2 linked regions of the Homo sapiens genome follow. The gene in region 1 interacts genetically with each later gene. Each region holds a gene or a part of one and is shown on either strand. Other genes may lie near its edges.

Region 1 (5,647 bases):
CGTGACATAGAAAAAGAAAAAAAGTAGTAAGTAAATGTTTATACAGAACTTTCTATATGCCAGGTTCTAATCTAAGCACTTGGTATTTTAACTTATTTAGTCCTCTTAAGGGCACTGTGAGGTAGTTACTATTACTATCTCCATTTTACAAATGGGAAACTGAGAGGTTAAGAATCTGCCTGAGGTCACACAGCTCGTATGTGGCAGGTCTTAGATTTAAATTGAGGCTTTTTTTTTTTTTTTTTTTTTTTTGTGATGGAGTCTCCCTCTGTCACCCAGGCTTTAGTGCAGTGGTGCGATCTTGGCTCACTGCAAGCTCCGCCTCCCAAGTTCAAGCGATTCTCTTGCCTCAGCCTCCCACAGTGGTGGGATTACAGGCATGAGCCACGGTGCCTAGGCTATTTGGCTCCCTAAGACCATGCTGTAATTACCTTGTACTGCGTAGGCTGACAGAATTTTCTGGCTGCAAAGTCCATATCTGTCCTAGTCTTTCCAGTATGACTAAGAAAACCGTAGCTCATAGCAACATACAAAACCAACGCTAGTCAACCTAATAAGAAGGCAATGCCAAAAAGCTCTACTCACCAGATGGCTGAATACATTGTATTTTGACCACAATCTTGGAGAAGACCCAATGGATGGTGTTAAATATTTTGAAGTGTAAGAATTAGCAAGGGTCTCATTGTATCAATTCCTTTATTCCTTTTTAAAAATGTAATTATTATTATTATTTTTTGAGATGAAGTCTCTAACACCCAGGATGGAGTGCAGTGTTGTGATTTCGGCTCACTACAACCTCCACTTCCTGGGTTCAAGTGATTCTCCTGCCTCAGTCTCCCGAGTAGCTGGAATTACAGGCACCCGCCACCACACCCAGCTAATTTTTGTATTTTAGTAGACGTGGGGTTTCTCCATGTTGGCCAGGCTGGTCTTGAACTCCTGACTTCAAGTGATCCACCCGCTTTGGCCTCCCAAAGTGCTGAGATTACAGGCGTGAGCCACTGCGCCTGGCCTTAAAATTTAATTAACTTTTAATTTTTTTGAAAATAGACCAGCCTGGCCAACATGGCGAAATTCCGTCTCTACTAAAAATACAAAAATTAGCTGGGCATGGTGGCGTGCACCTGTAATCCCAGCTACTCAGGAGGCTGAGACAGGAGAATCACTTGAACCCAGGGTGGCAGAGACTGCAGCAAGCTGAGATCGCGCCACTGCACTCCAGTCTGGGCAACAGAGTGAGAATCCATCTCAAAAAAAAAAAAAAAAGAAAAGAAAATAGAGACAGGGTCTCACTATGTTGCTCAAGTTGGCCTCAAACTCCTAGGCTCAAGTAATCTTCTTGCCTTAGCCTCCCAAAGTGCTGGGATTACAGGTGTCAGCTACCACACCTGGCCAGTTTCTTTATTCCTTAGGAGTAAAAAGAGTATCAGGGAGTATCAGTGAAAGGCAGTTGTAGGAATAAACTGTGGCTATGAATGCAAAAGGGAAACAAATTTAATGTCACTTTCACCATGCACAATTTACAGTTGCTAGTAGTAATCAGAACTTTCAAACTGCCTTTAGTGTGTTGAACATTTCACTTATAAAGTTCAAGTAATATTATTACTATTTTTCTTAAAAAGTTAAAAATAATAAGGTGGGTATTCTCTTTTTTTCTTTTTTGGCAGTCACTGATTATAGCAAGGGTGGTTATTTCTGTCTTTCCTCTTAAGAAAAGGAAGCCTAGATATGAAATTACAGGCCCAGTTATCACCCTAGCCAATTTTGCAGTGCTAATGCATCTTCTGTATTGACATTTGGGAATTCTGGGATCTGAATGGGGTAAAAACTAGGCCTTTGGTACTGAGCCCATCTAGGACCCTATCCTTACCCTGGCTTGATTTCAGACTGGTGCCTCACAGCGCTGTATCGGATGGCAATGGTGCACGCCTTAGACAGAGCCCGAGCAGCTTCTCCCACAAGGAAGGACCTGACAAACACCATGGTCCCGTAAGTCAGCTTGTTACTCAGCGGTTTCACGTATGTGCCATCAGGCTTCACCTGGAAGAAGAACGTGGAACTGATACTTCCTTCTTTTAAGCCCAAGAGGCAGTTCAGTGGTTCTCAAAGTGTGGTCCCTGGAATAGCAGCATCAGCATCACCTGGCAACTTGCATGAAATACTACATCTTAGTCCCCACCCTGACCAACTGAATCAGAAACTCCAGGGTAGGGCCTAGCAACCTGGGCTTTAACTGGCCTTCCAGGTGATTCTAACGCATGCAAAAGTTTGAGAATCATTGGTTTAGCAAATCAAAATATGTCCTTCAACCCTGACAACTGTTTCTGATTTCACTGTCGCAGTAAAAGAAGCATCAGAGTGGGCGTGATGGCTCACGCCTGTAATCCCAGCACTTTGGGAGGCCAAGGCAGACAGATCAAGAGGTCAGGAATTCGAGACCAGCCTGACCAACATGGTGAAACCCCATCTCTACTAAAAATACAAAAATTAGCTGCGTGTGGTGGCACGTGCCTGTAATCCCAGCTACTCAGGAGCTGAGACAGGAGAATCGCTTGAACCTGGGAGGCGGAGGTTTCAGTGAGCTGAGATTGCGCCACTGCACTCCAGCCTGGGTGACAGAGCAAGACTCTGTCTCAAAAAAAAAAAAAAACCAAAAAATGCTGGGTGCGGTGGCTCATGCCTGTAATCCTAGCACTTTGGGAGGCCGAGGCAAGAGGGTCCCCTGAGGTCAGGAGTTTGAGACCAGCCTGGCCAACAGGGTGAAACCCCACCTCTACTAAAAATACAAAACAATTAGCTGGGTGTGGTGGCGCATGCCTGTAATCCCAGCTACTTGGGAGGCTGAGGCAGGAGAATCGCTTGAACCCAGGAGGCGGAGGTTGCAGTGAGCCAAGATCACGCCACTGCACTCCAGCATGGGTGACAGAGACTCTCTCTCTCAAAAAAAAAAAAAAGGGGCATCAGAAGGAAAAATGCATTATTAGCTCCTTTTTTTTTTTTTTTTTTTTTGAGACAGAGTCTCGCTGTATTGCCTAGGCTGGAGTGCAGTGGTGTGATCTCGACTTACTGCAACCTCTGCCTCCTGGGTTCAAGCGATTCTCCTGCCTCAGCCTCCTGAGTAGCTGAGATTACAGGCGTGTGCCATCACACCCGGCTAATCTTTGTATTTTTAGTAGAGACAGGTTTTCACCATATTGGTCAGGCTGGTCTTGAATTCCTGACCTTATGATCCATCCTCCTTGGCCTCCCAAAGTGCTGGGACTACAGGCATGAGCCACCGCGCCCAGCCTTATTCCCTCCTTTTATGAGACGGAGTCTCACTCTGTTGCCAAGCTGGAGTGCAGTGTCATGATCTCTGCTCACTGCAACCTCCGCCTCCCGGGTTCAAGCTATTCTCCTGCCTCAGCCTCCTGAGTAGCTGGGACTACAGGTGCGCACCACCACGCCCAGCTAATTTTTTGGTATTTTTAGTAGAGATGGGGTTTCACCATGTTGGCCAGGATGGTCTCCATCTCTTGACCTCATGATCTTCCCGCCTCAGCCTCCCAAAAGTGCTGGAATTACAGGTGTGAGCCACTGCGCCCAGCCTCCTTTTTTTTTTTGAGACAAGGTCTCACTGTCATCTAGGCTGGAGTACGGTGGCATAATCACAGCTCACTGTAGCCTCGGCCTCCCAGGCTCAAGTGATCCTCCCACCCCAGTCTCCCAAGTAGCTGGGACTACACACGTGTGCCACCATACCCAGCTAGATTTTTTTACTTTTTGTAGAGATGGGTTCTCACTATGTTGCCCAGACTGATCTTGAGCTCCTGGGCTCAAGTCATCCACGCACTCAGCCTCCCAAAGTGCTGGGATAACAGGAATATGCCAGTGTGCCCTGCTGTTATTACCTTCTAAAAGAACAGACCATTCTAACCCTATTGTGAGTAACAGCCACTCAACTCCACTGTTTGATGCCTCTGCTTTATTTTCTATCAAAACATACCTGGGCATACTTCATCAGCATGTTTTCTCTGGGAATACGATGGTTGTCCATTTTGAGGTAGCCATTGTCTATCTCATCATAACCAAATTTGGGGCCGATGTCACCAACGGTAATTCCTACCACAGATGAAAGGACAGTCACGAGATGTTTATGCTCTGGAATTTCTGGCTTTTGCTCCGCCTCTTCAGTTGGGCATTCTACCTTTTGCAGAAGAAAGTGCTCAGTTTCATTTTCATCTCAACATCAGATGAACAGTTCTTACCTGGCAAAGGCTTATGGGTCCCGATTTCACGAATAGGTACGATAAAGGCATGTAATCCATAGCATTTCCCCTTAGTGATGAGCTGGGCAAGAACTATTGCATGATTTGAAGTCTTTCCAACTGTAATATCAAAGAGAACAAGGGAGGGGTGGGCAAACGTTCATACATTTTTAAAGGGTAGAAAAAAGAAGAAAGAATATGTTAAATCTAACACTAGACTAAACCAATAGTATGTGTCCAGAAAGCCTTTCTGCTGACAGCATCACACCTAGCTTTCAGAAAGAAATTCCCTTAAGCTAATAGTTATTACTTTCTTTTCTACTTATTTCTCATACATTTACGTAGAGAAAATTTTAGGATAAAAATAAGAATATTAATTTAAACTACTTCCTTGTTATCCCTTAAGGCAGTGCTGTCCAAAACAGTAATCACTAGCTACATGTGGCTTCTTACATATAAATTATAAATAAATAAAATATATAATGTGAATAACAAAATCCTTCAACCACTAACTGTATTGGAAATATATATTCCAAGATAATAACTCAGAATGGAATAAGAAGATATAAAAGTTTCGGGTCAGCCGGGCACGGTGGCTCGCGCCTGTAATTCCAGCACTTTGGGAGGCCGAGGCGGGCAGACCAGAGGTCAGGAGTTTGAGACCAGCCTGGCCAACATGATGAAATCCCATCTCTACTAAAAATACAAAAATTAGTTGGGTGTGGTGGCACGCTCCTGTAGTCCCAGCTACTCAGGAGGCTGAGGCAGGAGAATCGCTTGAACCCAGAAGGTGGAGGTTGCAGTGAGCGGAGATCACACCACTGTACTCCAACCTGGGTGACACAGTGAGACTCCATCTCAAAAAAAAAAAAAAGTTTGTGTTAAAACTATTTAAATTTTTTTCTTTTTTTTTTTTAAGAGACAGGGTTTCACTCTGTCACCCAGGCTGGAGTGCAGTGGCATGATCACAGATAGTAGCTCACTGCAGGCTTGAACTCTTGGGCTCAAGTGGTCCTCCCACCTCAGCCTCCTGAGTAGCCAGGACTATAGGTCTATAGGTATGTGCCGCTATGCCTGGCTTTCCTCTCTCTCTCTCTCTCTCTCTCTCTCTCTCTCTCTCTCTCTCTCTCTCTCTCTCTCTCTCTATATATATATATATATATATATATATATATATATATACACACACACACCTCTCTCTGTCTATATACACACACACACACCCCTCTATGTACACACACCACACACACATATATTTGTTTGTTGGGTTGTTTTTGAGACAAAGTCTTGCTGTGATGCCCAGGCTGGAGTGCAATGGTGCAATCTTGGCTCATTGCAACCTTCCCGGGTTCAAGTGATTCTCCTGCCTCAGCCTCCCAAGTAGCTGGGACTACAGGTGT
Region 2 (3,500 bases), on another chromosome or scaffold:
ATCAGATTTGTTTAGCAACATTCTGGAACTGTTACTCAAAACAGTCTACCTCTATGTAATTGCAAACTCAGTTTAATTGTCTAGCACCAAAAGCTTTTGGTCTATTATGGATTCTTTAGATTGTTTTAAAGAAATCCTTCATCACCAATGTCCTTTTGGCACAGAGCACAATCCTGTGGAAAAATATGGGCACTGAAGCTTCTGAGTTGAAAAGTGATTCTGAAGACTCCATCCCCAAATGTGAAGGAACTTAGGAATACCATAACAAATTTGTTTATTTTTTAATTATGTGCATAAGAGTTATATATGATCCAAATCTATATCTAATTGAGTATAAAGAACTGTTTTAAGAGGTATAAAATAAAAATCTAAGATATAATTTAACTGATAACACTTCTTTTTGCTTATTTCTTAAAGATACATAAAATGTCAGAGCAGGTTACAATTGATAGAAGCTTAGACTTCATGCTATATGGTATTCATTGGTTACCCTAAAATGGTGCCTAACATACCAAAGGAACTTAAACAAATGTTTGTTGAAATAAATTAAGAATCTTTCCAGATGGAATACAGTGTCTGGCCCTGAATGCCCCTCCAAGAAAAGGGTTCCTGCAGAAATCCCTCCCCTAGGTTAAGTGTGGGGATTTTCTTACTGCCCAGGATCAGCTTTTTATAGCTGCTTCTGCCACCCTTCAATCTACTCTATACAAAATTCTGTTTCAAGAAGGCTAACTCAGTAATAACAAAAATGATTTTTATCTGTAACAGTTTAGCTCCCTAAAAGAATTTTTAAGTTACCTTTAGAAATTGCCATTTCTAATTCTTATTTTGACTCCTAACTCTCAAGATAATTTTATTAGCGATTCCCATGAAAAGAACTCTTCCTAGTTTTTTTGTTTTTTCTTTTTTTTGTGAAGGTTTTGTGCTACTACAAGTCAGGACAAAATGCTTTTTGTATCACAAACCAAAGCTGGTGCAATGGAAACATGAACTCTGCTTTGAATAGGCAGTCAATCTTAACATGACTATCCACACTGTAATTGATTCCTGGCAACTTATATTTTTAGACGAATACCATGTAAATGCTTTAAAAATTATGCAAATCTTGTGGTTAAATCCCCAGTTTCACACTGTCATGTGAGTCAATGTCTCTAAAACAACCTGCATTATAGCATAGAAGCAGTTTTATCCACATGATGGCAATGAAAAGTAAAAGAAAGCCTTGCCTTTTGCAATCTTTAGTCATGATCAGTTTGTGGATCTTTGGTAACATTAGCAATCGACACAATTTTGTTAACATTCATAGTCTTCCTTTGGTGACAAAGACTGGCAATTTTTCAAAACCTAGTTTCACTCTTTATTGAAATAAGAGATAAAACAAAATCCTTTGCTCTTCCCTTTCTTTCTTCCCATTTGTGCCAACTGCTAGCTGTGTAGCATTTGGCAAGTCACCTACCTTCTTTTTACTGTCATTCTTTTTTCTTATCAGTAAAGTGAGGATTATAAAAATGCATATCTCATAGGTTTGTGATACGGATTAAATGAGTTAATACCTACAAAGCACTTGGAGAAGGGCCTAGCACACAGAAGTCGCTAATAAATCTAGCTATTATTTCTATTCTTGCTGGACATAATCATATAAAATCAACAGAGATGAATGAATAAATAGATTAATGAATTAATGAAAGAAGTGAGATATAAAGCTTGACCTCCAAAGATGGCTAAGATTTCAACAGAAAGAGAAAGTGGGGGTTAAACATACTTATTACTGCTATTTATGCCCTTTTCTTCCAGTCTTCTATCCGTACCCAGGATATAACTTAGATATAATGAGCACAGCACAAGGAATGTTGGTTCAGTAGATCAGAGCCAACGTGTGGCTTTCCAAATTCCTATGAAAAGGGAGAAGAGAAGGAATGGGGGTGAGTGCGCTTTTGAAGAGCATAATCCACCTGTATCCAGCTGTGCCTGGCTGAATACTGAGAGAATAGAGGACTGAGATATGGGATACTGAGAGAATCTGCCAGCCCCATGGTCCACGTGTTCCAGCCCCAAATATATTGGGTTTTGCCCACTTGACAACAACCTACTGGCTGTGTAACTTACTGCACATTGTTTAACATTTCTAAATTTCAGCATTGTTCTTTATAAAACGGATGCTAAAAATAGCTGAGTAGATGCTCTGAAGATCAAATTACATTTGTATGACAACTAGAAAAGAACCTGCTACAGAATAGGTATTCAAAAAATGTTAGTTGCCCCAAATATATATAAATATTTTGGATTAGTCCTCCACAGAAACAGCAACTTACATTAAACTGTATGTAATTCTAGTTAACATCATTTCTCCTCTTTGTCATGGCTGAGAGCTGAATTAGGTGGAGAACAGTTATGCTGCAATCATATAGGTTGTTTGAGTATGTGTAACACTCATTTCTGTATTCTGCTCTAAACAGAGATTCTATAAGAACTGTGATTCAGTCAGTTCCAATGGCTTAAAGCCTCTTGAGCAGCATACCAAATTTTAGATGCCAAAGTTTAATTGAAACTTGGCATATGGATGAACACTTCTGCATGTATTGAAAGCCATCAGAAGATTCCTAAACAAAGAGCAATCACACACATGGTAATTTTATCCAACTGGAACCAATTATATTTGGCATTTTTTATGAAAGAGGGAGAAAAATAAGAATGGACTCAAGAAAATGTTTTCCTTTTATGACTTTTACCCTCTTTAAGATGAATTGCCTTATGAAGTTACTTCTTACAACTCAAGGAGCATAAACTGTCTAGAGAAAAAAAATTATGCAATGTCTTCCTGGAGGCAAACATTTTGTTACAGAATAAATGTGGACTTTTAAGCACATCTGGCAATCATTCCACAACCTACAATGCTGGCACCCTAAAAATGCTTCACGATAATAATATGTTACCAGTAGAGTTGATTACTTCAAGCCAGGGGAGGTTTCAACACAAAACAGGTCATTTCCATGCAGAATACAGAGCTTCAAAGTCATCAGCTATGAGACCCACCATTAATCCAAGTGGTTGGGGGAGACGATTACTCCTAATAGAAGGGGAGCCAGATTTGAAGGTGGTTTTTACACGTGCTTTTCCCCTGGAAGAGCAAGCTTCCACACTGCAATCTTTCACCAAAGTCTAGGTCTTGGCTTTATGGTTATAGATGCCATTTCAAAGGGTATACTAGATTATAGGATTCTTTCTGCGTTCTAGACCACTACATATGTATAAGAAATCATTGTGTCGCACATGTTCTCTTTTATTGATTTCACTTACCATTCAATAAATATGTCTTGTTAAGAAAATCAGCCCTTTAATTTTATTTGGAAATACCTCGTACTGCTGCTGGACTGTCATGTTCTGATGTGACTGCCCCTTTGGGGTCAGAGAGTAAAGCCACACTTCTGTAGGTCAGTGGTGGTATCTTTGCTTAAAGGAGTAGACATATCTAATGTCAATCATCTAGGAAAGAAGGAGAA

Evidence for each region.
Region 2: changes in ACOX1 (region 1) and TRPC6 together harm fitness less than expected from each alone (positive genetic interaction), as found in Homo sapiens cells (one large-scale study listed by BioGRID).

What each region holds. Positions count from the first base shown.
Region 1 is NC_000017.11:75,951,581-75,957,227, forward strand, and holds part of ACOX1 (peroxisomal acyl-coenzyme A oxidase 1), read right to left. Parts: intron 4,368-5,647; coding exon 4,248-4,367; intron 4,102-4,247; coding exon 3,986-4,101; intron 2,041-3,985; coding exon 1,871-2,040; intron 1-1,870. UniProt on the Homo sapiens protein: Involved in the initial and rate-limiting step of peroxisomal beta-oxidation of straight-chain saturated and unsaturated very-long-chain fatty acids.
Region 2 is NC_000011.10:101,574,008-101,577,507, forward strand, and holds part of TRPC6 (short transient receptor potential channel 6), read right to left. Parts: intron 1-3,500. UniProt on the Homo sapiens protein: Forms a receptor-activated non-selective calcium permeant cation channel. Probably is operated by a phosphatidylinositol second messenger system activated by receptor tyrosine kinases or G-protein coupled receptors.